3 separate regions of the Homo sapiens genome follow, and all the other regions are linked to region 3. Evidence: fine-mapped expression QTL. A gene starts in region 3. Each other region holds a variant in brackets. All regions are shown on one strand. Distances are from middle to middle. Region 1 overlaps GZF1 (GDNF inducible zinc finger protein 1). Region 2 has its middle 13 kb from the start of CST8. Region 3 holds the start of NAPB (NSF attachment protein beta).

What was found.
Region 1: its variant is fine-mapped to the expression of NAPB in monocytes (BLUEPRINT, PIP 0.95).
Region 2: its variant is fine-mapped to the expression of NAPB in whole blood (TOPMed, PIP 0.97).

Annotation. Positions count from the first base shown.
Region 1 is chr20:23,367,061-23,375,244 of GRCh38, forward strand. It overlaps GZF1 (GDNF inducible zinc finger protein 1), which reads left to right. Exons shown (of 6, transcript NM_022482.5): 3 at 1-37; 4 at 1,702-1,869; 5 at 2,524-2,681; 6 at 3,031-6,002. The coding sequence ends at 3,381. It overlaps NAPB (NSF attachment protein beta), which reads right to left. Exons shown (of 11, transcript NM_022080.3): 11 at 7,462-8,184. Among named protein-coding and RNA genes, the nearest start is that of GZF1, 9.0 kb to the left of the region's middle. The variant C/T (reference allele first, on the strand shown) is at 4,192.
Region 2 is chr20:23,473,699-23,481,882 of GRCh38, forward strand. It overlaps the pseudogene CST12P. Among named protein-coding and RNA genes, the nearest start is that of CST8, 13 kb to the right of the region's middle. RefSeq lists a silencer at 1,974-2,268 and an enhancer at 1,980-2,807. The variant G/A (reference allele first, on the strand shown) is at 4,887.
Region 3 is chr20:23,416,700-23,424,883 of GRCh38, forward strand. It overlaps NAPB (NSF attachment protein beta), which reads right to left and starts at 4,789. Exons shown (of 11, transcript NM_022080.3): 1 at 4,606-4,789. The coding sequence starts at 4,703. RefSeq lists silencers at 3,778-4,007, 4,638-4,727 and an enhancer at 4,978-5,167.

The DNA.
Region 1 (8,184 bases), 50 kb before region 3:
AACCACATGCTGATTTATCATAAAAGGTGTCACACAGGTAAATACTCATGCTGTTGTGATTGAATGTCTTTCCTAGATCTAGAAGGAAATGCAATTGATTAATTTTGAAGTTGGCATCTACCAAGGTGGTGCAGGTTAAAGCCATGATATAGCTTTTCCATCTAGTAAGTGAGCAAAATGAATAAACATACACCCATTGCCTTGTTGCTAGTGTGCACATGGCTGTGGCTTTTATACCACCAGGCCATAGGATCTGGCATGCAGGTCTTAGGTATCAAGAGATATAAAATAGTTCTTTTGTAACCGAAATTTTTTTTTCTAAGACTCTGTCCTAAAGAAATTGTCCAACATATGGGAAGAGCTGTATGCTATTATCCCCCTTCTTGCTATTTTTAACTAAGAATGGGAAACAGCCTGATTGTCCAACTACAAGGAAGTGCTCTAGTCAACTCTGGTAAATCTATACCCTGGCTTATGACCCGGCTATTCAGAGTAAGGGCTCTGAATGACATGAAAAAGTCTGTGCTTGGATGTTCAACTTTAAAATGCACAATTAAGCATACAGTTAACCTCAATTGTATTGAAAACCTGCACATAAAAGACCAGAAGAAAATAAGTTGTTATATGATACATTAAGGTAGTAGGATTATCTCATTTCTGTTTTCCAAAGTCTTTATGATTTATTAATTATGTGACAGATAAAACTTAAGTTGGCTTTATTCTGCTTCAGCACAGTAACCCTGAGGTTTAGAATCTTGTGGAAGATACAGAAGCATACAGCACTGAAGTGTTCCAATTCTTCTCAGTTTCTTCTTTGCTTGCATTTTTTATTCTTACCTGTAAACACTGGCTTACAAGCCTCAAGTTCAAATGCATGTGAGACAGAGATGACATGTCTCTGACTCATTAGACACCACATCTGTGTGATTAGACACCAGTTCTGCTCATTCTGAAGTCATAATTCATGTCATTGAATGAAAATCTCATTTAATGTCATGAAATTAGCATTTAATGACATGCATTATGACTACAGAATGAGTAGAATTGTTTAAAGAAAGCTTGGGATTGGGGACAAGGTCAGGTTATAATGAAGGATTAAGTTAGAATTGGTCCTTTGATAATATTAACATGGTAAGATTTTATTAAAGTCACTATTTTTATTTTGATGTCTGTGAAATCGGGCACAGCTAATAATTTGGTAAGTCTGATTTGTGGGATTAAACTACAAAAAGTGAGATATTTAAAACTCTTGTCCTACAATTCAATCAAGTTGATTGGAGTTGCTACTCTAGAATAGTGATATATATCCATTGTCAACTTCCCCTTTATTCTGATAAAGATCCATAGAAGTGTTCCTTTGAAAATAATCCAGCAGTTCCTCCAAACAGAAGTTGTGAAATTATTTTCTTGTTTGGAATGAGTAAATTTCTAAAATGTGAGCCAGCTGAACAAACAATACCTCTTTGATTCTAGTCAAATGGAATTTTTCTTGCAATTTCCAAGGATATTTTACACCAACTTTCAGTAAGTAGCAAGCATCTTACATGAATATATATTTTATGATAGTTTTTACTGGAAAATGTAACATGCTGCCTACCAAGGCACTTTTGAGTTCACGTGGGTTTTAACAGTGGAGACCTACTGTTCCATGTGTTTTTAATGCCTGTATTGTTTATGACTTTATTTCATTTTCTCATGTAGGTGAAAGACCTTTTATGTGTGAAACATGTGGCAAGAGTTTTGCTTCTAAGGAGTACTTAAAACACCACAATAGAATCCATACTGGATCCAAACCCTTTAAATGTGAAGTATGTTTCAGGACTTTTGCCCAGCGGAATTCACTGTACCAGCATATTAAAGTCCACACAGGTATGGTTGGAATGTCCCAGGGAAGGGAGTTTAGTTTGGCCAAAAAAAAAATTCTAAAGCTTGTAGATTTACCAGTAAATTACTTGGAACTAAGCTTTTGAAGAAAACTGGCCAAACTTTGTATGTCATAATAGCATTTCTTTAGAGATTGTTTCTAACTCTGAGAAACTGAAAAGTGGGAGCACTTATGTGTGTAAACGGGAGAAGACTAAGTCCCTTTGCTACATGGAGTTTTTACTGAAAAGGACAGACAGCTTAGTCATGGTGTGAATGTAGGAAGTGGATGTGGATGTGTGGACATAGGGATAATGATCTGTACATGTTAGTAAATGCACATGCACACATGCATATTCAGTTGTTAGGGGTCTTGTAATTTTATACTCCATTACCATGGAAAACAGGTGTCATTCCTATAGTTATAATACCTGCTGCAGGCACATGTCCTGGCCCCTTTTTGGTGTAGGCCATAAATTCTTGGTATTATAGAGATAGTGGATTTGTAGCCCTTAAGTTGTTCCCAACATAACCTTCCTTATGTTGGATGCTGAGGCTTCCCAGTGGTTTGCAACAGCATCATTCACTCAAGTGTGTATTCAGAATTAAGCACAGTAGGCCAAAGGGACCCACCAGCAGTCTCCTCTCTCCCTGCCTCAGGGGAGCGTCCCTACTGCTGTGACCAGTGCGGCAAGCAGTTCACCCAGCTCAACGCCCTCCAGCGCCACCGCCGCATCCACACAGGGGAGAGGCCATTCATGTGCAATGCGTGCGGACGGACATTCACCGACAAGTCCACTCTTCGGCGGCACACCTCAGTAAGCAGTGGGTTGGCTTATTTGAGAAACAAGCTGCTGCCCTTAGATGCACGGAAAGAGAAATACCTACCACCATTCTCCAAGGTGGTTAGAGGTCGAGACAACAGGTACTTTCTCCTTGGGTTGTCTCTGCAGTGGAACGCTCACGGAATGAATGAAGTGGAACACCAAGCCCCAAGGCCCAGGGAAAGCACCATCCACGATGACTACTCTGTAACAGTGAGGGTGGTGGCAGGCGGGTACTTATTAGTGAAAGTTGAAAATTGAAGTTGTAGAGGGACTATTGTTTTAAAAGATGCACTTGTCCAGAGACACATTCAGTGACCTTTGTTTTGTGTTTAACTTATAGATACACGATAAGAATACTCCATGGAAGTCTTTCCTTGTCATTGTAGATGGCTCGCCCAAGAACGATGACGGACACAAGACTGAACAGCCTGACGAAGAGTATGTGTCATCCAAGCTTTCGGATAAATTGCTGTCTTTTGCAGAAAATGGCCATTTCCACAACCTGGCTGCAGTCCAAGACACTGTACCTACCATGCAGGAGAACAGTTCTGCTGACACAGCCTGCAAGGCAGATGACTCCGTGGTGTCCCAGGACACCCTCCTGGCCACCACCATCAGTGAGCTTAGCGAGCTGACCCCACAGACAGACTCGATGCCCACACAGCTTCACTCTTTGAGCAACATGGAATAAGAGCTTCAAGCAGTTCCCATCCTGTTAGTCTGCGTGTGTGGTAGCTGAACTCAAGATGATGTGGGGCTAAGAAAAATAATTGTCCATGTGCAAAGATGTGGGCAAGAATGGCCTCTGCAGATTTTCCTGAACTTCTGCTAACTTGCACGGCTTTATCACAGCATTTTTAAAGCTTTCCCTCAAAAATCCTGATCTGCATGATCTCAGCTACTTTATTGACAAAAAGGCAGTGAACATAACCTCACTTAATTCTGGTGTAGGGTGTATGTGCTAATCGTTCTAATTCTTGATTACCTAGTTTATAGATAACTGCTGGTCTTAATTGCAGAGTACAGAGAACTGAACCAGCTCCTGATATTGTAGTTAGCAGTCTTCCTGGCTTCTCACTCTGCCTTATATTTCCATGTGGGTTTACTTCTCTCATAACTACTTTCAAGGTATTTTTCTTCCAAGCTGAAATAAAACTGGGGCCACATATTTTCAGTCATTTCTTCCCTGTTGAATTGAAGCAAATCAGATTTTCTGTGGGGACCCTCAAATGCAACTGAAGAAATAGATTGTTGCATTCATTCCTCCCCACCCCCCATTTGTAGGCAGTAAACAAAGTATGACTGACAGATTGAACACCTGCAAAACTGCTAGCGTAATCTCAGCACATACGCAGCTAGGAAGTTTGTCATAAAATCAACTTAGAAATGAGATGAGGCTGTTCAGTTTGTCTTAAAAAAATCAGATTAGGTAAAAGCTGTCCTACCAAAGAGTCTAGCAAAACAATATAGTATTTTTTTGCAGAGGCATGAAAAATTAAGA[C/T]GCTTTAGAGTACTTGAAAGTTGTGTAGTCATTTTATTTGCAAAATGAGGTGACTGTGGCAAATTATAGAACACAGAGTATTATTACTTTTGCCAGGTTTTTCTGACTTGATTTCTGTAATTTCCAGAAACCCAGACTTCTCATTTCCACACCTAGAGATGGAAACAGGCAAGTAACTGACATGTCTATTTCCTTGGGAGCATGTGAGAACATAGCAGTAGGGACCAAAAGTCTCAGCACACTTACCTCCGATTATGCCTTAAAGAGTTGATTGTGAAGAACCAGTAACTTTGTCCCAAATGCTTCTTTGGCTGTTTCATGCAGGACTTAATTATTGCTTTTAAAAATTCACAATGAAAAGACGATTCTGCTGTATTTGTTAAACGTTGACATTTGGTTCTAGGGCCTTGAGTATGTGCCACGTGCTTGTGAAATGCTATGATTCACATGTAACATTTAAACATTAATTTAAAAAGGGAACCTTGGAGAATTCTTTTGTTCACTAGTTCCTTTTTTCTCTACATTTTTAATTTATTAAACTTGCTGTGAAAACACTTTGATTTTCTAAGAGGAAGGTACTTTAAGTTCCAGAATGAACATGTAGCTGCACTATGCCAGAAATTAATGAGGGAAGACTTTCTTCCTAAGTGCTTATGTTTTAACTTATGTTAGTGAAACCACTACAAGGTGTTTCAGGCGCTGATAACATGCTTCACACCTGCCCTTGGAGGTCACAGTACTAATTTACTTCAAATTTAGTTATGACAGTGTCACTGTATCCTAGTTATGTTTACAGCACAAATAAATAATGACTGTCATACATCCAGAGGAGACCGAACCTGCCCAGCTGATGTACTGTTTTATGGAATAAAGTCACTTGATCAGAAGGAATTGAAACAATAGATCATTTTGTTACCTACTGGAGGGATTTTTGTCTTGAATTTGTTTCCTTAGAAATTCTACAAAAAAATGTTGTTAATAAATGTCTGCTTTGTAAAAGCAGTTTTGCAATTTTTTAAAGATCTATTTCTGTTATAATTTAGGTTCTGCAGAAATATGATTCTTAATTGAAACATATAATTTGCTTAATTACGTGAATAATGAAATGTAAAATCCGGGTCCATAAGCCTTTATTTCATACAGTCCTAGGATTAAGCTGTTTAACTGCTTGGATCCCAGTTGGTCTCTGGCAGTGGGATCCTGGAGAGGAGAAATCCTGGCCTCTGCTCATGCGCAGGCCACAACCGGGCTGGAAGTGCGGTTGAGCTCTCTGCCACTTTCTTCAATGTAAAAAGTAGGCATCAAAGATACGACTTCTACTATATACATTTCTCTGTCCCTGAGAACAGAGAAACGTAACCCTGTAGGGGACTGGTTACAGAGGACCTCCTGGAGCATCTGCCCCATTCCTCCAAGTCCAAGCACAGCCATGCTGAGTGGAAGCGAGGCCACCATCTGAGTGGATTGGTCCCAAGTGTGTAATGAGGAAAGTGGCCAGGTGCCGGCACAGTGCCTCTCCCAGAGCCTCAAGAAGGGCCATTTAGGAGCTTGCTTCAACCATTTTCCAACCATTTTCTGTGAAATGCTGTCAGCCCAAACTCCAAAGGGATGTGCAGCCTTTCGTTTTACCAAATTCTTTGCTGTCGTTTGGAAAAAATGGGCCATGTGGTGGAGACCTTTATTTAAGGTGATTTTTACAGAAATGTGATTTTGCTGTAGGTGATTATCCAAACAAGTAAATTTGAGTGTATAATTTAATTTTTAACCTGTTAAATAAACCTTGTCCCTCCAAGGAGTTCATTTTTGGGAAACAAGATGGGTACTTGTCAATTTAACCAAATGTCATGATATTCATGTACTCAGGAGTAACAATATTTCATTTGATGTGACTGAGAAAGGCACACAGGTCAGAGGATCATCTAGCACAGCAGTCCCCAACCTTTTTGGCACCAGGGACCACTTTTGTGGAAGACAATTTTCCCACAGGTGGGGGGACAGAATGGTTTCAGGATGATTCAAGCGCATTGCATTTATTGTGCACTTTCTATTATTATTGCATTGTAATATACAATGAAGTAATTATACAATGCACCATAATGTATAGTGGGAGCCCTGAGCTTGTTTTCCTGCAACTTGACAGTCCCATCTGGGGGTGATGGAAGACAGCAACAGATCATTAGGCATTAGATTCTCATAAAAAGCGTACAACCTAGATCCCGTGCACGCGCAGTTCAATAGGGTTTGCACTCCTATGAGACTCTAATGACACTGCTGATCTGACAGGGTGCACAGCTCAGGTGGTAATGTGAGCCACGGGGAGTGACTGCAAATACAGATGAAGCTTCACTGCCTGCAGCTCACCTCCTGCCGTAAGGCCCAGTTTCTAACGGGTTGGGGACCCCTGATCTATCACATCATGCTAAATGAGACTCAGAAAATCATCTGCATACCTTTGGCAATCCGTACGTGGACTCTTAACTAAGGCTGACAAAACTAAGCTTTTAAACTACCATGGTGGCATCTTCATTAGGAAATTGATTCTGAGAAGAGCCACTTGATTTAGGCTTTGAATGATCAACAACTCAGAATGCCTAGATGAGGACAGCTTGTTCTACCATTTAAAACATTTTGCTTTGACTTACCTGAAGTGTTGTGAATATACTTTAGGACCTGAAATCAAGGCTCTATGATAGGATGGTAGGATGAGCCGGTCTGCACTACCCGCCATGGGTCCTCTTCCTCATCAGAACTTCAGGCCCCAGTGGTCAGTGGGACTGACCCTTCCCCAGGGGCATCTCCTCTCCCTGTGCAGATATTTTGCAAAATTAAAATAAATGCCCACACTGACCAGATAGTTGAGTGGTACTTTCTTGGGGTAGGAGAGTGTCAGGCTTAGGGGTGCCTCACCTCCCCACCAGTCTTCCAGCAACCATGCCTTCCTCAACTTTGCAAGTAACTGTAGACCCTAAAGGATTCAAGGAAGGGATGAGAATGTGGGGTCTGCAGGGTTATCATGTACTTTAGTGGACTGCATCAACAGAAGTTACCAGGGTTTCCTTCTAAACCCTCAGTCTGCAAAACCATTACGGTGCCCTGGAATTCCCAACAAATGACCGGAGCCTAGAGAGTATTAACGTCTGTTGCCTTAATCTTAACGGGAACAACTTGAAACAATGGAAGCTACTTTTGACCTATGCCAATTTAGCAACAAGACTCATCAAAATATTACTGATAATTTCCACTTTATAGGTTAAAATAAAACAAGCATACTTTTTCTGCTAAGGTAGATTTATTGTTACACATGGTTAGTTTTCATAACGTAATCCCCTGCCCCAGAGCAACTCAGGACTCCATGGAGCAGGAAGCCTGCTCTTGGTCATAGCTCATACCACAGCAGGCAGGTCACGGGGGCATGCTGTGCTGCCAAGTCCTCCAAAGGAAGTCACAAAGGTTTGCATTTGGACATTTAAATCCACAAAATCAGGAGAAACAATAAATGCACAAGGGCTGGTGCATATACTTTGGTTACAGTGACGCCACCACACACGGTCACGACTGTGCAAAAATACTGCTTTCAAATCATTAAATAAAAAAGAACTCACACAAGCTATAAAAATGTTGCCACAAAAAGCAAAACTTTCCTCTAAGAAATATTAACTGACTTTGACTATGAACTAACTCCAGATTTGCTAAAGTACAAGAATTGTACCATAAATAATTATATTTTGTTCATAAGTAACATTCTATAAATCTTGAAGACCTAGCTCACAGGCATCTTGAAACATGGCACTGTCCTACATCCATGGGACATTTAAAGGAAGTAAGTTTGCACACCACTAACTGGGCTTTTCTCTCATTCTTTTTTTTAATCTTCTGGCAGGTCTCTTCTAGCCATTACAATTACTTTGATTCTTTTCATGTGAAATATTAAAAACAAAAATTAATTCTTAACCCCGGAACTGGTCCCAGTGTTTATTGCAATACAAACAAGTG
Region 2 (8,184 bases), 57 kb after region 3:
TCGGGAGGCTGAGGCACGAGAATTGCTTGAACCCAGAAGGCTTCAGTGAGCTGAGATTGCACCACTGCACTCCAGCCTGGGTGACAGAGTGAAACTCCATCTCAAAAAAAAGAAAAGACAAAAGGGGAGGTTAACTAAAAGCCACTGAGGAGAAGAAATTGAATAAAACAAGAAACAGGGACAAATGAAATGAATAGAAAACAAATAGCAATATGGTAGATTTGAAACCAAACATATGGTAATATTAGTCATTAGTAACTAATAATATGAGTAATGTAAATGGAACAACTTTCCAAATAAGACTCTTAGACTGATTTAAAAAACTATTTGGTGGTTATAAAGGCACATATTAATTAAGATACCATATTAGAATAAAAGTATGAATAAAGATATTCAAGTAAATAAGAATCAAAACAATGCTAAATGTTTTGGTGTCTCTGACATCAGACTTCAGAGCAAGAGGCATTACTCAGCATAAACTGGTACATTATATAATGATAAAATGGTCAGCCACCAAGAAAGTGTAACAATTCTACTTGTATAAGCCCTGGACGACATAGTCTGAAAATAAATCAAGCAAAAATTGTCAGAAAGAAATAGACAAATTCACAATCATAATCATCATGAGAAATTTTAACATACCCCTCAGTAACTGGCAGAAAAGGCGACCAAAACCTAAACCAAAACCAAACCAAACCAAACTCAATAAAACAAGACAAAGTAGAAAGAGTAAATATGGCCAGGCACAGTGGCTTATGCCTGTAATCCCAGCACTTTGGGAGGCTGAGGCGGGTGGATTACCTGAGGCCAGGAGTTTGAGACCAGCCTGGCCAACATGGTGAAACCCTGTCTCTACTATAAATCCAAAAGCGTGGTGGTACATGTCTGTAATTCCAGCTGCCTGGGAGGCTGAAGCATGAGAATTGCTTAAACCCAGGAGGCAGAGGTTGCAGTGAGCTGAGATCGTGCTACTGTACTCTAGCCTAGGTGACAGAGTGAGACTCTGCCTCAGGAAAAAAAAAAAAAAAAGAAATAAAGAAAAAAGGGTAAATATATAGAAAATTTCAACAGAATGGACTTACTGATGTATATAAATATCTAACTCTACATCTATAAAATGCAGAATACGTATTCTTTTCAACTGCATATATTAATAGAATATTGGTTATTCTAGACAAATAACTCAAAAATTTCAAAGAAGGGAGATAATGAAATGGTGTTCTCTGACTGACTATAGTGGACTTGAATTAGAAGTCGATGAGAGAAAAGATAACTAGAAAATCAACTACATTTGGAAATTAAACAATACAGCTATAATAGCCCACAGATTAAAAAAAATGTCATAGTGGAAATTACAACTGGTTTTGAAATGAAGGAAAACTAATAATCAGCCTGGGAGGATGAAGCCAGTTGCACCTTCTGGTGGAGGAAGGTCTGGCAGCAGGGAAAATGGACTCTTATAGACATCTCCCTTGCACCCTTCAGAGCCCCACTGGCCACACACTTTGTGCTCTCCTGGGCCCAGCTGGCAATGTGGGCTCCAGCCCCGTCATGGGCAGGCTTAGCAACTGCTTCTGCTCTTCAGGAACTGGCTCACCAGAGGTCTCAGAGATTTCTTTTTCCCTGGTGAGCCTTACATGCACTATGTGAGGGCAAGCCAGGTGGGCTCGAGGTCTCCACCGGGTCTTCTCAGGGCTGGGCTGCAGCTGGAGGAGGCTTCCCTGAAAAGGTAGGCAGCAGGCATGTTGCATGCATGCCTGCAGGTCCAAAGTTATGTGACCTCCTGCTCTGCCTTGTTTGGAGATAACGGAGGGACTCTGCGGGGTTGTGGAGAGAGGCACTGGACAAGGCACTGCTCAAAGGGAGGTGCTCAACAGCTCAGGGCCCCTGGTGGACAGGGCTGTGTGGGACCCAGAGCTGAGAAGGGAGTCACCAGCAGCAGCTGCCACCACTCCTCCACCTGAGTGTCCCTGGCCCCCAGTGGGTACGCTGAGGATAGCCATGTGGTAGAAGGTGCCCCTGCTCATGGCACTTATTGTGCTGAGCACCCGCATCTGGATCATTCAAAAAGAATTCGTAGACATCAGTATTTTGTGGCATCAATGGAGTTTGCTGTGGCTCAGTTCAATGAGGACAATATGGAAGAGTACACGCACAGGTTGCTGGAGGTCCAGCGAGCCCAGCAGAAGGTGAGTGGCAGTCATTTTGTCCACTCCCAGAACTCTCTTCACCGACTGAATAGCTCAAAGCCCGTGGTGATGGCAGCAGGGGGTGACGTGGGAGGGGGTCCCATGTCTGCACCACATTTCTGAAGATTGGGCTCAGGGGCCCTTCCTCCTGCGGTGGGCACACAGCCTTCCTGATCTTTGCCCATTTCCTTGGCCATCTGCCCCTTCCTTGGGTTGCATCCCCATCCCTGGACCCTGGGAGGCTGCAGGAGCCCTGGGCACAGGGGGGTTATGCTGCTGCCCAGCCACAGTGCCCGGGGTGGGGGCTTCATGCCAGCCTAAAAGGGGAGAATGTAAGGAGGGGCAGGGCATATGTGAGTGTTCTTGGTGTGTATGGGAGTATGAGTATGTGAGTGTGTTATTGATATATGTAAAAACATGAGTGTGCTGTTGGTGTGAATCAAGGAATGACTGTGAGTGTGTTGGTGTGTTGGGGCATCAGTGTGTGAGTGTGTTGAGGGTTGGGCATGAGTGTATGTTGGTGTGTGTCAGGCATGAGTATGAATGTGTTGGTTTGTGTCAGGCATGAGTGTGAGTGTGTTGGTGTGTGTCAGGGCATGAGTATGTGAGTGTGTTGGGCATGAGTGTATGTTGTTGGTGTATGTTGGGCATGAGTGCATGTTTTTGGCATGTGTTGGGCATGTGTGTGTGAGTGTGTGTTGGGCATGAGTGTGAGTGCGTTATGTGTATAGGGTCACGAGTGTGAGTGTGTTGGTGTGTGTTGGGCTTGAGTGTGAGTGTGGTGTGTGTGTTGGGTATGAGTGTGAGTGTGTTGGTGTGTGTTGCGCGTGAGTGTATGTTGGTGTATGTTGGGCATGAGTGCATGTTTCTGGCATGTGTTGGGCATGCATGTGTGAGTGTGTGTTAGGTATGAGTGTGAGTGTGTTGTGTGTATAGGGGCATGAGTGTGAGTGTGTTGTGTGTGTTGGTCATGAATGTGAGTGTGTTGTGTGTATAGGGGCATGAGTGTGGTTGTTAGTTTGTTCCAGGGCATAGTTGGGTATCATCTCAACCCCAGCATGGATTGCTGAGCCCTTGACTGGGTCAAGTTTCTCGACAATTTCTAGGCTGTCCAGTGAGACCTGTGCCCCAGCCTGTCCAGACTTCTGGTCTGGATTCATTTTCTCTCTACATTTGGGTGCTTCCTGAGTTTCATGGACTTCTACGTAAAGAAATGAAAATAACTTTTAATCACTTCTTATAGAAGCCTAAGAAACATGCACAACAGCATGGTGCAGCTCTGCATTCACCTCGATGATCACTGGCAAGGTAGATGGTTACGAGCAATTAGCACTCACATGAAGCAGAACAGTGCCATCCCCCAGAGCCCCCTCTGTGATCCCATCTAGATTCTAACCTGCAAGGAGTCCTGCTGACCTAGTTTTTAATCCCAGGCATTAGTCTCGCCCATTTCTCACTCTGTGTAAAAGGAACCACCCAGTGTGAGCCCTCTGTGTGTGGCTGAGGCTCAGGTGTAAGGCAGAGGCAGTGTATTGTTAGGTGTGGCTGCGGCATGTGCAGGCTCACTGCTGCGCAGGATTTGATTGTGTGAGTGTGTCACACCCTATGTTTATCACTCTGTCAATTTGTCTGTCAGGTATTAGTCATTGGGAAGATTCCAGTGTGTATCTGAAGCACACTTAGTGGACTGTCTTCTACTGACCTGCAGAGAGATTGTACATGGCCCTGTCTAGGCCTATTTATATGACATGCACATGGCAGCCTTTTATCCACTTTCCTATTTGTTTCTCTGCCTTTTAAAAAAATTCATGAAAAGAAAACACTTAGCAACTGTTTGTATAATTCTTCTTGACAGACGTGGACAATGATTTATTATTATTATTATTATACTTTAAGTTTTAGGGTACATGTGCACAATGTGCAGGTTAGTTACATATGTATACATGTGCCATGCTGGTGCACTGCACCCACTAACTCGTCATCTAGCATTAGGTATATCTCCCAATGCTATCCCTCCCCTCTCCCCCCACCCCACAACAGGCCCCAGAGTGTGATGTTCCCCTTCCTGTGTCCATGTGTTCTCATTGTTCAATTCCCACCTGTGAGTGAGAATATGCGGTGTTTGGTTTTTTGTTTTTGCGATAGTTTATTGAGAATGATGATTTCCAATTTCATCCATGTCCCTACAAAGGACATGAACTCATCATTTTTATGGCTGCATAGTATTCCATGGTGTATATGTGCCACATTTTCTTAATCCAGTCTATCATTGTTGGACATTCGGGTTGGTTCCAAGTCTTTGCTATTGTGAATAATGCCGCAATAAACATACGTGTGCATGTGTCTTTATAGCAGCATGATTTATAGACCTTTGGGTATATAACCGGTAATGGGATGGCTGGGTCAAATGGTATTTCTAGTTCTAGATCCCTGAGGAATCACCACACTGACTTCCACAATGGTTGAACTAGTTTACAGTCCCACCAACAGTGTAAAAGTGTTCCTATTTCTCCACATCCTCTCCAGCACCTGTTGTTTCCTGACTTTTTAATGATTGCCATTCTAACTGGTGTGAGATGATATCTCATTGTGGTTTTGATTTGCATTTCTCTGATGGCCAGTGATGGTGAGCATTTTTTCATGTGTTTTTTGGCTGCATAAATGTCTTCTTTTGAGAAGTGTCTGTTCATGTCCTTC[G/A]CCCACTTTTTGATGGGGTTGTTTGTTTTTTCCTTGTAAATTTGTTTGAGTTCAGACAATGATATTTTTAACAGATTTGGAGATGGGCCTCACAATTTGTAAAAAATATGATGAAGACATTGACAATTGCCCATTGCAAGAAGGCTCAGCAGAGAAAAAGGTTTGAGAATAAAATCAACCCCAAAGCATCATGAATCTCTCGGGAATGGATAGTAATATCAAGGTGGGCCTTTGGGAGGAGGCTTAGAAAGGTCATCAGAGGTGATCCTGGGGCAGAATGAGGGTCCCTGAGCCCTCTCCCACCTGGTGTCAGGGCTCCCTCAGTGAAGGCAGAAGGCTGGCATGTAAGCAGACAAAGCCTGGCCTCAGTGCCAGGGAGATCCCTCTGCCTACAGCATGGCTGACTGGACATAGCAGGCACCTGCAGATTCTACATGGCCTTTGTCCCCAGACCAAGCCCTCACTTTGCTCCCCAGGCCAGTACCTTCCTGAGACCCTCGAGATCCAGGTAGATGATGTTCTCCATGCAGTCCTCACTCTTATTTTGTTGTTGGGGATTGCAGGACTGTCTAGTTTCTCCGGTCACTCAACCTGTCCCTCTAGTTCCTGTGTGGTAAGGATGTGTCCTAGTCAGTCTGAGTTCTGACACCATCCTCCCATGACCCATACATGACCCATGTGAGCTCAGAGGTTGAGGATGCTCTGAATCAGAGTTACAGGAGCAGCAGGGCTGGTCTCGCCCTTCCACCTGCAGGCTTGCTGTCAACTGCTGTGCTCAGTTGGTGGGTGCCCAGAGGGACCATCCCTTGGGAAGTTCATTCTCTCCCCTAGAACACACAGGGTGGGAGCCGTTCATCCAGCATCATGTGTGCTAGGGAGATTGTGAGTGGACACGATGCTTCAGGGGTCAGGTGATGGCCCAATCAGGCATGCTTTCAGGAATCCCCAGGCTCAGGTGGGAGCATTCAGCCACCTGTGCCCCTTGTCCTGGTGGAGGCTTGGGCATTTCAAGCCCTGTTCCTGGATGACTGTTTTTGTTTTTCATTTTTTGTAGTTTTTAATACATCTTGACCCCCTACTACATGCTAAATGCTCTCAGTGCATTACATTTTTCTAATTTATATGTTATACTTATTTTTTTTCAGGTATACTGCACATTTGTCATGGATGCCCGACCTTGGTTTTCCCAGTTCAACCTCCTAAACATCACCTGTAATGTGGAAACAGGTGGTGGCAGAGCCCCTGATTTTTTGCAGCAGAAGTCCTCTCTTCCTCTAGAGTATGAAAGTTTGTAGTTCTAGGCCTATGCTGCACTAGCAGAATTAAAGACATCTTAGCTCCTTCTGGGTCTGTGAACAGTTTTGCACTCTTTCCTATTATTTATTTGCCATGGATGTTTCTGGCAGTGATAAGCAAGGGAGAATTCATTATCATCGTTACCTTGGCTGCAGGTGTAGACTGTTGAATAAACCAAACTCCCCAGTTGATTTGAGGCAGTTCATGTAGGAGCCCCCCACCAGTTGGTTGGTGTACTCATCCATCCACCCATCGATCCATCCATCCATCCATCCATCCATCCATCCATCCATCCATCCATCCATCCATCCATCTGTTCCTTCATTCATGCACTGATTCATTCATTCATCCTTCCATTTCTCTATGCCATCATCCATCCACTCTAAAGGAATGCAGACAATTTTGTTAACCACACATGACCCTTCTGTTTCCATCTCAGGAACAGGCTCACAGAGGGTGGCTCTTCTGCAGAAGGGCCAGGCGCAGGCCTAGGGATCAGAGAAGGTCACTGAAGCTGACAGGAGGCTCTGCCCTCTGTGGACACCGAGGGCTGCATGAATCACAATGATGTCTTCTCCAGAGCTCAGATGTCTTCTCCAGAGCTCAGAAGATGGCAGTTCCAGTCTGCATGCCCACACCTGCTCCTGATGCCTGTGTTACCTATCTGGGACCCAGCCAGGGCTTCATAGCTGCCAGCATCACTCACTGCCCCTGGGAGAAGCACTGTGGTGACAGACACCCATCCTGACAAGCAGTCCTCTCTGCTGGGGTCTTGGTGGGGGATCAGCCTTGGAGGGGCAGAGAGATGAGGGGATGGTGTGGTGGGGGGACATGCATTGGGCAAAGAGACAGTGCAACAGTTTCTGGAGGAGTCTTCCCGAACAGAAGGGCTAGGGAGTCTTTACTCCTCCATCCTTGGTTTGGGGGGTGATTTGAATATTTCTTGGTAAGAAGTCTGCCTTTTTCCTGGATAGCTCATTCCCATGAATTTGCCATAGGGCTTATGGGACAGAATTTTCAGAAACAGCTTTGGGTAGCTCCATCTGTCATGGCAAAAAGATGTGGCAGCTTTGGTCCTTCGGCCAACTTCTGTGCAGGATTTGTGTGCAACATCCCTCCATAATTTGATAGGGCATATTTATATTACCAAGGGGATGTCTGCATGGTTAGCAAAACCAATCAATTGCTGGCCCTTGGCTTTGAGAGCACTCAGGCTGGGAGGGGTGGAGCCCTTGTTTATGGACCCCATGCCTACTGTTCCGGACAAGCACAGCCACACCCTCCCTGAGCTCTGGTCAGCATTGCTTGCTGATGGAAGCACCTTTACCTTTAATTCCAAGTTCACAAGGAAGGCCTGGCATCCTGCTCTTTTTCACAATAAGCCAGTTGTTTTCTACCTTGATCCACACAAAATCCCACTGGTTTCATTTTATATTTCTCTTAGGGACCAAGCATTACCCCTATCTGTATTGCAACAGAAAATTTGGGCCTAAATCATAAATACTTGGAGTCCTCAGGTGTTCGGTGCTTGGGGCTATGGCTGTGAAGTGGTTCTTTAAGGTACTCCAATATTTTAGAAATTGTGTTTACTGCAGTTGGGTATTTTGTCCATGGCCTGTGTTCTTTAGTTCCGGCTCTCATAGAAATTGAAAACATAGCCCTATTGCGGATTTCACTGTTGATGGTGCCCAGTGGCCATGAGCTATGCAAGCAGCTTTGGTAGGGTTAGTAAATTTTGTGCCTGCCACTTTTGTTAGTAATATGATGACCTCAAACCAGTAGAGCTTTGAATAATGTGTCAATATCCAAGATCAGCCAGAATCCAGGAGTCCATCTTGTTTCCTGGAGAAACCTCTCTGGATTTGGGTCAGTCATTAAGTGGCCTGAATAAGTAGGAAGTAAACATATTGAAAGTTATAGTACACAAAATTGACATATATTTCTAAATTCTAGATCTATGTCAAACCCCGAATATTTTCTACATCTTATCGAGTGACCTGTT
Region 3 (8,184 bases):
AGTAAACCTGAGCCTAATAATTTTTTTAAAAGTTCAATCTGCATTTGAACAAGAATTGTAACTGAGGAAAACCTAAATGCTTCACCTATGTTATCACATGGCCCCACCATATTTTGGCCAAACTTAAAAGCAATCTTTGTTGAAATAAACACAAGTGAAGAATACTGATAATTTACAGTCTACAATGCTTAAGAAATATTCACAATTTTCACAAACAACCAACAAATTATAGATTCATAATTATTTCAAGATAACCCAATGGGGCCTTTCATTAAATTTACATTGACATTGCCAAATTTGTAGCTCTTGTGTAAACTCAGACTAAACACTGAAAGGCAAAGGAAGACAGCATTAACCATAAAGAACATCTTTCCACTGGCATTCTTTTTTTTTTTTTTTTTTGAGACGGAGTCTCGCTCGGGGGCCCAGGCTGGAGTGCAGTGGCACAATCTCAGCTCACTACAACCTCCACCTCCAAGGTTCAAGTGATTCTCCTGCCTCAGCCTACCAAGTAGCTGGTATTACAGGCGCCCGCCACCACGCCAGGCTAATTTTTGTATTTTTAGTAGAGACGGGGTTTCATCATGTTGGCTAGGCTGGTCTCAAACTCCTGACCTCAAGTGATCCACCCGCCTCGGCCTCCCAGAGTGCTGGGATTACAGGCGTGAGCCACTGCACCTGGCCTCCACTGTCAGTCTTAAGCACTTTCTTCTATGTGCATTGTGCAGGTTATTCCCAACCGGGTCTCATAGCAACAAGATGGAGGGGATAGTATTATAAGAGGCTTTTCCAATTCAAAACTATCTTAATGTCAGACTCAGGCCGATTTAAAATCATACCAGTAGTTCATTAACATTATAAACTGGAATTTGAAATTAACTACAAAATTCCATAGCTCATCCCTGGCAACAAACTAAAGGACAAGACAACTCCTTTGGAAGTAGTTTTACTAAACGTACTATACTACAAACTTGAGAAAAAGTTTTAATTCCACAACTACAAAAGCACATTACTGCTTAACGGGCAATTAAGCAGAAACACAAACCACCACAACAGTGGTTTCCTGCAATGTTTGCATCCCTTGTCAGCTCTTTTCCTGGGGAGGAAGGTGGGGATGGGAAAGGAATATTGATACCTTACCTATCAAGCAGATAAGGCAGAGGATTTGTGCCTTACACAGAGAAGAAATATTTGACTGACATGTTCTCATAAATACATATGCATATTTTCATCTAATTTTACTGAAAGCAAGAAACAAAAGCTATAGAATACTACTAAGAATACAGTATTGCCACAAAACCACTGTGAGTGGTAAACACTAGAGAACTCATGACAGGCTTTAATCTGCAGATAGAGCATTCAGAATGTCTGTGATGTGAAATATCTGCAATATGCCAAGCAGCTTTTAATGACTGCCACAACCTGAAAACAGATGGCTTATCCTCTTTAAAGCACCAGCTAGTCAGCTCTTAAATATATGAGCTCTGATGATATTCAAGTCAGTATGTGTGTTTTATTAATTTTGTATTACATTAATTCTGGAGTCTGACATAGAGATGGATTACTCTGCGTTTTAAATAAAGGATTACATGCAGACCTTTAGGAATGAAAATGGTGACATTCTATAGCTAAGAAGGCAGGGGCAGGGTGGAATAACATGTATTCCAGTCTAGAAAGGTGATGATACATGCCATCTATAAGGTAGGATTCTAAACATCTAAAATTGATACAGAATCTTAATTGTCCTACTGACACAGGAACACTACGTCTGTTTTCTGGCTTCAGTAATTATACAATATTACTAAACTCCTAAAATTCTAAGTACTCTTCTTCCTGCAAGCTTTCCTGGAGCAAGTATTACTGGAAATAACAGTCTTCAAAGTATAAATCACACTTGCATGGTACATTAATGGTTAAAGCTCTTTCAGATATTTTATTTCATTAAAAGATCAATGAGGCTGGGCGTGCTGGCTCACGTCTGTAATCCCAGCACTTTGGGAGGCCAAGGCAGGTGGATCACGAGGTCAGGCATTCGAGACCAGCCTGGCCAACACAGTGAAACCCCGTCTCTACTAAAAATACAAAAAAAAAAAAAAAATTAGCCGGGCGTGGTGGCGGGTGGCTGTAATCCCAGCTACTCAGGAGACTGAGGCAGGAGAATCGCTTGAACCTGGGAGGCGGAGGTTGCAGTTAGTTGACATCCCGCCACTGCAATCCAGCCCGGGTGACAGTGTGAGACTCCGTCTCAAAAAAAAAAAATCAATGATGCAGTCTACGGCTCTGAAATTCTGGAAAAGTTATCTGTTTGGCCTACTGCTTCTTTGATAAATAACTGGAGCTGATAATTTTGATGAATATGCTAATTAATATCTCATGGTCACTGTCTCCAACATCCATGGTTCCAAATGTTTTATAAACATAACCTCACTGAACTCCCATAAATTTTGAGATATACTATTATTGTCTCCGTTTTATACACTGGAAACTGAAGCACAGAGAGGCTAAGTAACTTGCCCTAGGTCCCAAAGCTAGATAATAAACCAACCTGTTGTACCCAGGTAAGAACTAAGATGCATTAACTTTTGTGTAACTGAGTGTGAATGGTGAAGATTCGTCTTCTTATATGTCCTGTCAATAACATAGGTAGCAACATTTAAAAGGGAGATGTTTCTTTAAAAACAAAGGCTTTTCAAAATCCTTTAAGGATTATAAGCTCAAGATTTGGCCTAGTTTCCTAAAAACATCGAAAACCTCTTTCCCAAAAGGAGTGTTCTCCTGAGACAAGCACCAAGTGCTGTCAAGCTTTTTCCTCTGCCAGTTACAGACTCTCCCACAGGGAAGCACTTCCTGACTTGAAATAATGTTGTAACATTAAAATAACCTCCTGGCATGAGGTACTATGACATTAAATTTTATTAGAGTGAATTTTAAATGTTTTGTGAATCAAAACATTTAAAAGGAGTTAGTGTGGCGCTAGCACTTGATGGTACTGTCATAACTTTTAAATGCAAAACAAAACATAATTCATAGCTATATCTCCTACACATCACATGAGAAATTTAGAAACCAGCTGTGATAAACGTCCTCTGAGAGGTTCCTGAGGACAGGGACCCTTATCTTCTTGCATTTTTGCAGCCTTTATGCATTTCTGCAGTTATGCGTACTGCATGCAACTTGTCCTTAAGCATTTCCTAAAGACGTATCAATAGCGGTAAAGTATTATAATTTATAGCCAAAAGAATGAAGTTGGCAAAACAAGCTAAGAGCCCATTATGTCTGTCTTCTGAAATAGAGTCTGAACTGAATGTGTACAGAAATAAAATCGTGTCTAGTCATGCAATGGGTTAAGTATCTGCTCTTGGTAACAGCAAAGGATCTTTCACTTTCAAAAGAAAACAACGAAACAGGCACACACAAAATTTCTGCCTTTCTCATCCTAAACAGCTGAATCATTCACATATTCAACAGCCCAGAATTCTTCCGGGCTGTCAGTGCGGGCTCTGCTTTTTGAGAGGTTGGAATTTAAAATCCTCCTTAGGAGAGCACGGAAGAATTACAGGAAATTAAAGGGATTCCCAAAGGACGCCTGACTTAAACAGCAGCAGCGTTACCGTTAATCAAACAGGAGGCTCTGGCTATCAATCAATCTCCGGAGAAGGAAAAATACTATGCTGAGAAAATATATTCGTTCATTAGTCAAGTATTTACTAAAGGTGTACTCGGCGCAAGGCCCCTGGAGAGAGGCCAACAAGCACACCAGCTCTGGATCCCTCGCCGGACCGCCCCCTCCCCGGCGGGGCCCACCTGCAGGCGGGACGCCCCCAGGTGCGCGTTCCAGGCGCCGGGGGCGGCCCCCGCACCCACCCCTCCGGCTCCACCCCGGCGCGCCTCACCCGGACCGGTCTCAGGAGCGATACGGGCTTCAGCGTGGCGAAATGCACCAATACGACTCGCTACGCACTGAGAAGGGGGCCCCACGCGCGCCCCGAGCTACCGCGCCCGCGGGCCTCAGGGAGCCGCTGACCTTCTAGGTCGTGGGACCCCCGCACCAACCCGGGCCAGGGCGAGGGGGGCGATCTGGGGTCTCCAGAGGGCGCGTGAGGCTGACAGCCCCCCCCCCAGAGTGTTCTAGGGGCTTCGTGGGGCGCTTGGGGAGCTCTGGGGGTCCTAGGGGTTCTCTGAAAGGCGCGTGGGGGCTGAGGGTCCCTGTGAGACTCTGGGGATTCTAAGGGGGCGTGTTAGGGGATCCGGAGAGCGTGTGGGGGCTGAGGAACCCTGGGGAGTTCTGCCGGCCCTAGGGGGTCTCTAAAGTGCGCGTGGGGGCTGAGAGCCCCTGGGAGGATGCGGGGTTTCCAGGGACCCTGGGGGGGCCTGTGGGGTCTCTGGAGGGCGCGTGCGGACTGAGGGCCCCTGGGCGTCCTGGGGGCTCCAGGGGGCGCTGGGGGACCCTACAGGATTTCTGGAGGGCGCCTGCAGGCTGAGGGCCCCTAGACGTGGTCTGAGGGCCCCAGAGGTTGCGTGGGGGACTCGGGGGGTCAGCCTGAAAGGAAGGGGGCCAAGTACGGAGACCCCCCCCCCCCAGGGCACGCACGGTCTGGCGCTCACCCAAACAGCCCTCGGAGGAAGGAGTGGGAGGCCTTGACTCGCTTCTCGGCCTCCGCCATCAGCTGTACTGCCTCACGCTCCTTCCCCGCGTTGTCCATGTCGCCCGCCGCGGCCGCCACAGCCCCCTCAGCCGGCTCGCTGTGCGCCCAGGCGCCTTAACCCTCCCTCTGGCGGCCGCAGGGACGCAGGCGCAGGCGCGACGCGCGAGGCCTTTCGGGAGCTGTAGTCCGGGTCCTGTCATGGCGGCGGGGATTCGCGAGCCGCCTACTACAGTTCCCAGGAGGCCCCGGGGCGGGGTGTGTGTGAGCCGAGCTTGCGCACCGCTAGCTCCCAGGACGTCGGCGCAGGGGGCGTGACCCCCCCAAAGGGGTCCTGGGCCAAGGTGAACTTTAATTTTGTATGTATGCAGAAATGGAAAAATGATCCGTGGCCTCTAGTAAAGATCACCTCCTCAGTAAGACTCGCATGGCAATGGGATGGATGAAGGAACAGGGGATAACAGATTGGATGGAACCCACACCCTTCATGCAAGTTCTGCAAAAGAGAATCTGGTGTAGCCACCAAAGCATCACATGCTTGATACCGCCCACCAAAAAACGAGCAACAGCTGGCAATAAGAGCCATTTTTATCTCCAAGAGCAAGACGTCCCCAATATAAGTTCAGTTATTTTTAAATCTCCCCAAACTGTAACTTTCTGTTGGTCCTCTCTTCCTTGGTTATAAATGAGTTGCATATATGCAATATATGCATAATCCACTCTTTTGTTGACTGAATTATATTCAATGGATGTGAACCATTGAACTCTTATCCTTTACATAATACTGGCCATAGTGGATGGATCTCCAGGGACAAAATGTTTGCCTGCCAGGAAGACTTCTAATCTCCTAGGAGAAGTATCCATAGATAGATGGGATCCTGTGCCAGAGACTTTCAGGCCTGTCCCAGAGGGAGTTATTTTTGAAGACAATGTCTAGACCATTCAAGCTTGGCAGTGCTAAGGCAGAGATGCTGAAACTAATAAGAAAATCACTGCCAAGTGAGATTTATGACAGTTTCAAACTGTTAATAAATACACTCTGGGCACTGGCATGCAAAATTTTAGAAAATGAAGACTGTCTGTAGAGGGCAAGGCAAGAGGGGCCAAACTCCTAGAAAGAAAGTTGACTAAAGCACATGTCACAGAGTTCATACATTTCAGGACTCCGTAGAGATAGAAAGAAATCTCAGCTCTTCGTGCAGTTTATTTACGATTACTACATGCATTATTCTAACTTTGAAAAGCTGAGCTGTGTGTTTTTGGAGAGAGAAGGAGGCGGGAAATTGGAGGTGACCGTAAATGCAGGGGAGACCAGAGAAAAACTGTAAAAAGTGAACATAAGCATTTGGAAAGCAGAGCAGTCTATGGGGGCTTAATGGAGTGAGGCTAAGTCAAAAGCTCCTAAGTAAATCAGTGTGTTGATTAAATCAGTTGTTCCCTAACGTGGTTCGATGCAGAAGCTCTAATGGATATTTAAGAAATACTGATTCCTAGGCCACTGGGTTTTGGTATCAAGGTCTCTTGCAGCTGGGGTCTAGAAAATGCACATTTTGAAAAGAACTCTCCATCCCTATCCTAAAGCACACAGTTCTAGATTCTCATATCTGTAGTCAGTTGAAAAGGAGCTGGAACAGACTGCCTCCCCGAAGCTAGCACTTGCAATTAAGAGAGACATTTTTGGTGGTTTCTAGTAATTTCCTTCATTCTCTTCTTTGTCACAGGAAATTTGTGGGCACTCCCACCGTTCTGCCAGTCCACACCAAAGTGGGAGAAAACCTTCAAACCTTAATTACTGGGTAGAGCTAGTGTTTTATTCTCCCAAAGGCTGGGGGAGGAAAGGAGGCAGGGCAGAGAGATGAACCTCACAGAATAAGGCCTGACTAGAGAGACAGCTGAGGAATCCTTGAAACAAGAAGGAAAAGGAAAGGAGAAGCACCCCTGGTGTGGATCAGGAGAAGAATAGAAGTCATCTTGGAGAAGAGCCAAAGGACCCACTGCCCACACCTGCGCTGCCCAGGATGGAGCCACTCACCACTGGTGGCTATTTACATTCAAGTTAAATAATATTAAATAAAATGTAAAGTTCCATTTCTTGGCTGTACTAGCCGTATTTCAAGTGCTCAATAGCCACACATAGCCAGTGGCTACTGAAAGAGTTATAAATATAGCATCCTGGTGGATTGACTAAGTTAGACACCTGGTGGATTGACTAAGTTAGATACTTGAGGGCGGTGGCTCACGCCTGTAATCCCAGCACTTTGGGAGGCCAAGGCAAGCGGATCACTTGAGGTGAGTAGTTCAAGACCAACCTGGCCAACACAGTAAAACCCCATCTCTACCAAAAATACAAAATTTACAAAAAATACAAAAATTAGTTAGGTGTCGTGGTGCATGCCTGTAATCCCAGCTACTCAGGAGGCTGAGGCAGGAGAATCACTTGAACCTGAGAGGTGGAACAGAGGTTGCAGTGAGCCGAGATTGCACCATTACACTCCAGCCTGGGCGACAGAGTGAGTGAGACTCTGCTCAAAAAAAAAAAAAAAAGTTAGACACCCAAAAAACGACAGGTGCAAGAAGATTATTTTGACTTTTTCTTTTCTTTTTTGCATACAGAATACACACTGGACACTTTGACCTCTTGTTTCTTTCTTTCTTTTTTTTTTTTTTTTGAGACAGAGTTTCACTCTGTTGCCCAGGCCAGAGTGCAGTGGCTCACTGCAAGTTCCGCCTCCCAGGTTCACGCCATTCTCCTGCCTCAGCCTCCCAAGTAGCTGGGACTACAGGCACCCACCACCACACCCGGCTAATTTTTTGGATTTTTAGTAGAGACGGGGTTTCACTGTGTTAGCCAGCATGGTCTCGATCTCCTGACCTCGTGATCCACCAGCCTCGGCCTCCCAAAGTGCTGGGATTACAGGCGTGAGCCACCGCGCCTGGCCCCAACCTCTTGTTTATTTAAAGGCAAGAGATGAAATTCCCATATGAAAGATGTCCCTCTTATACTAGAACTAAAGCAACATTCTTATCATCAAAGACAGGAAGTTGAGGCTAAGAGAATTCTGTACAAACCCTATTAAACTAACCCTTATCTTCTTAGTCACTTTTCTATCCAATTAACTACCCTAGCCCAAGCCCCTCTGCCTCATCACATTTTCAGTTTACTATTCTTTGTCCAATTCAGTAAATAAGTAACACACTCTAACTGCCTCTTTGGGTTTTCATTTCCTTATGAGGCCTCCCATGCCATGTAAAACTTGTATCAAATACACCTGTGTGCTTTCCTGCTATTAACTTGTCTTATGTAAGTTTAATTTTCAGACTCCACCAGGAGCCTGAGATGCCCCCCTACACTACTATATGGACTGCACAGACAGAGAACAATTTTATCATTCCACAAGTCCTAGTGGATGGCACTAGCCTCTATGTGCTTTGCTTTTCAGAAGTTCTGGACACTTGTAAGAAAAGAAGAAAAAGGCTTCAGGGAGTTTCTGAGAAGGCAGAGCAGGAAAGGAGCGTAGCCTGAACAAGGCAGAGCCAACAG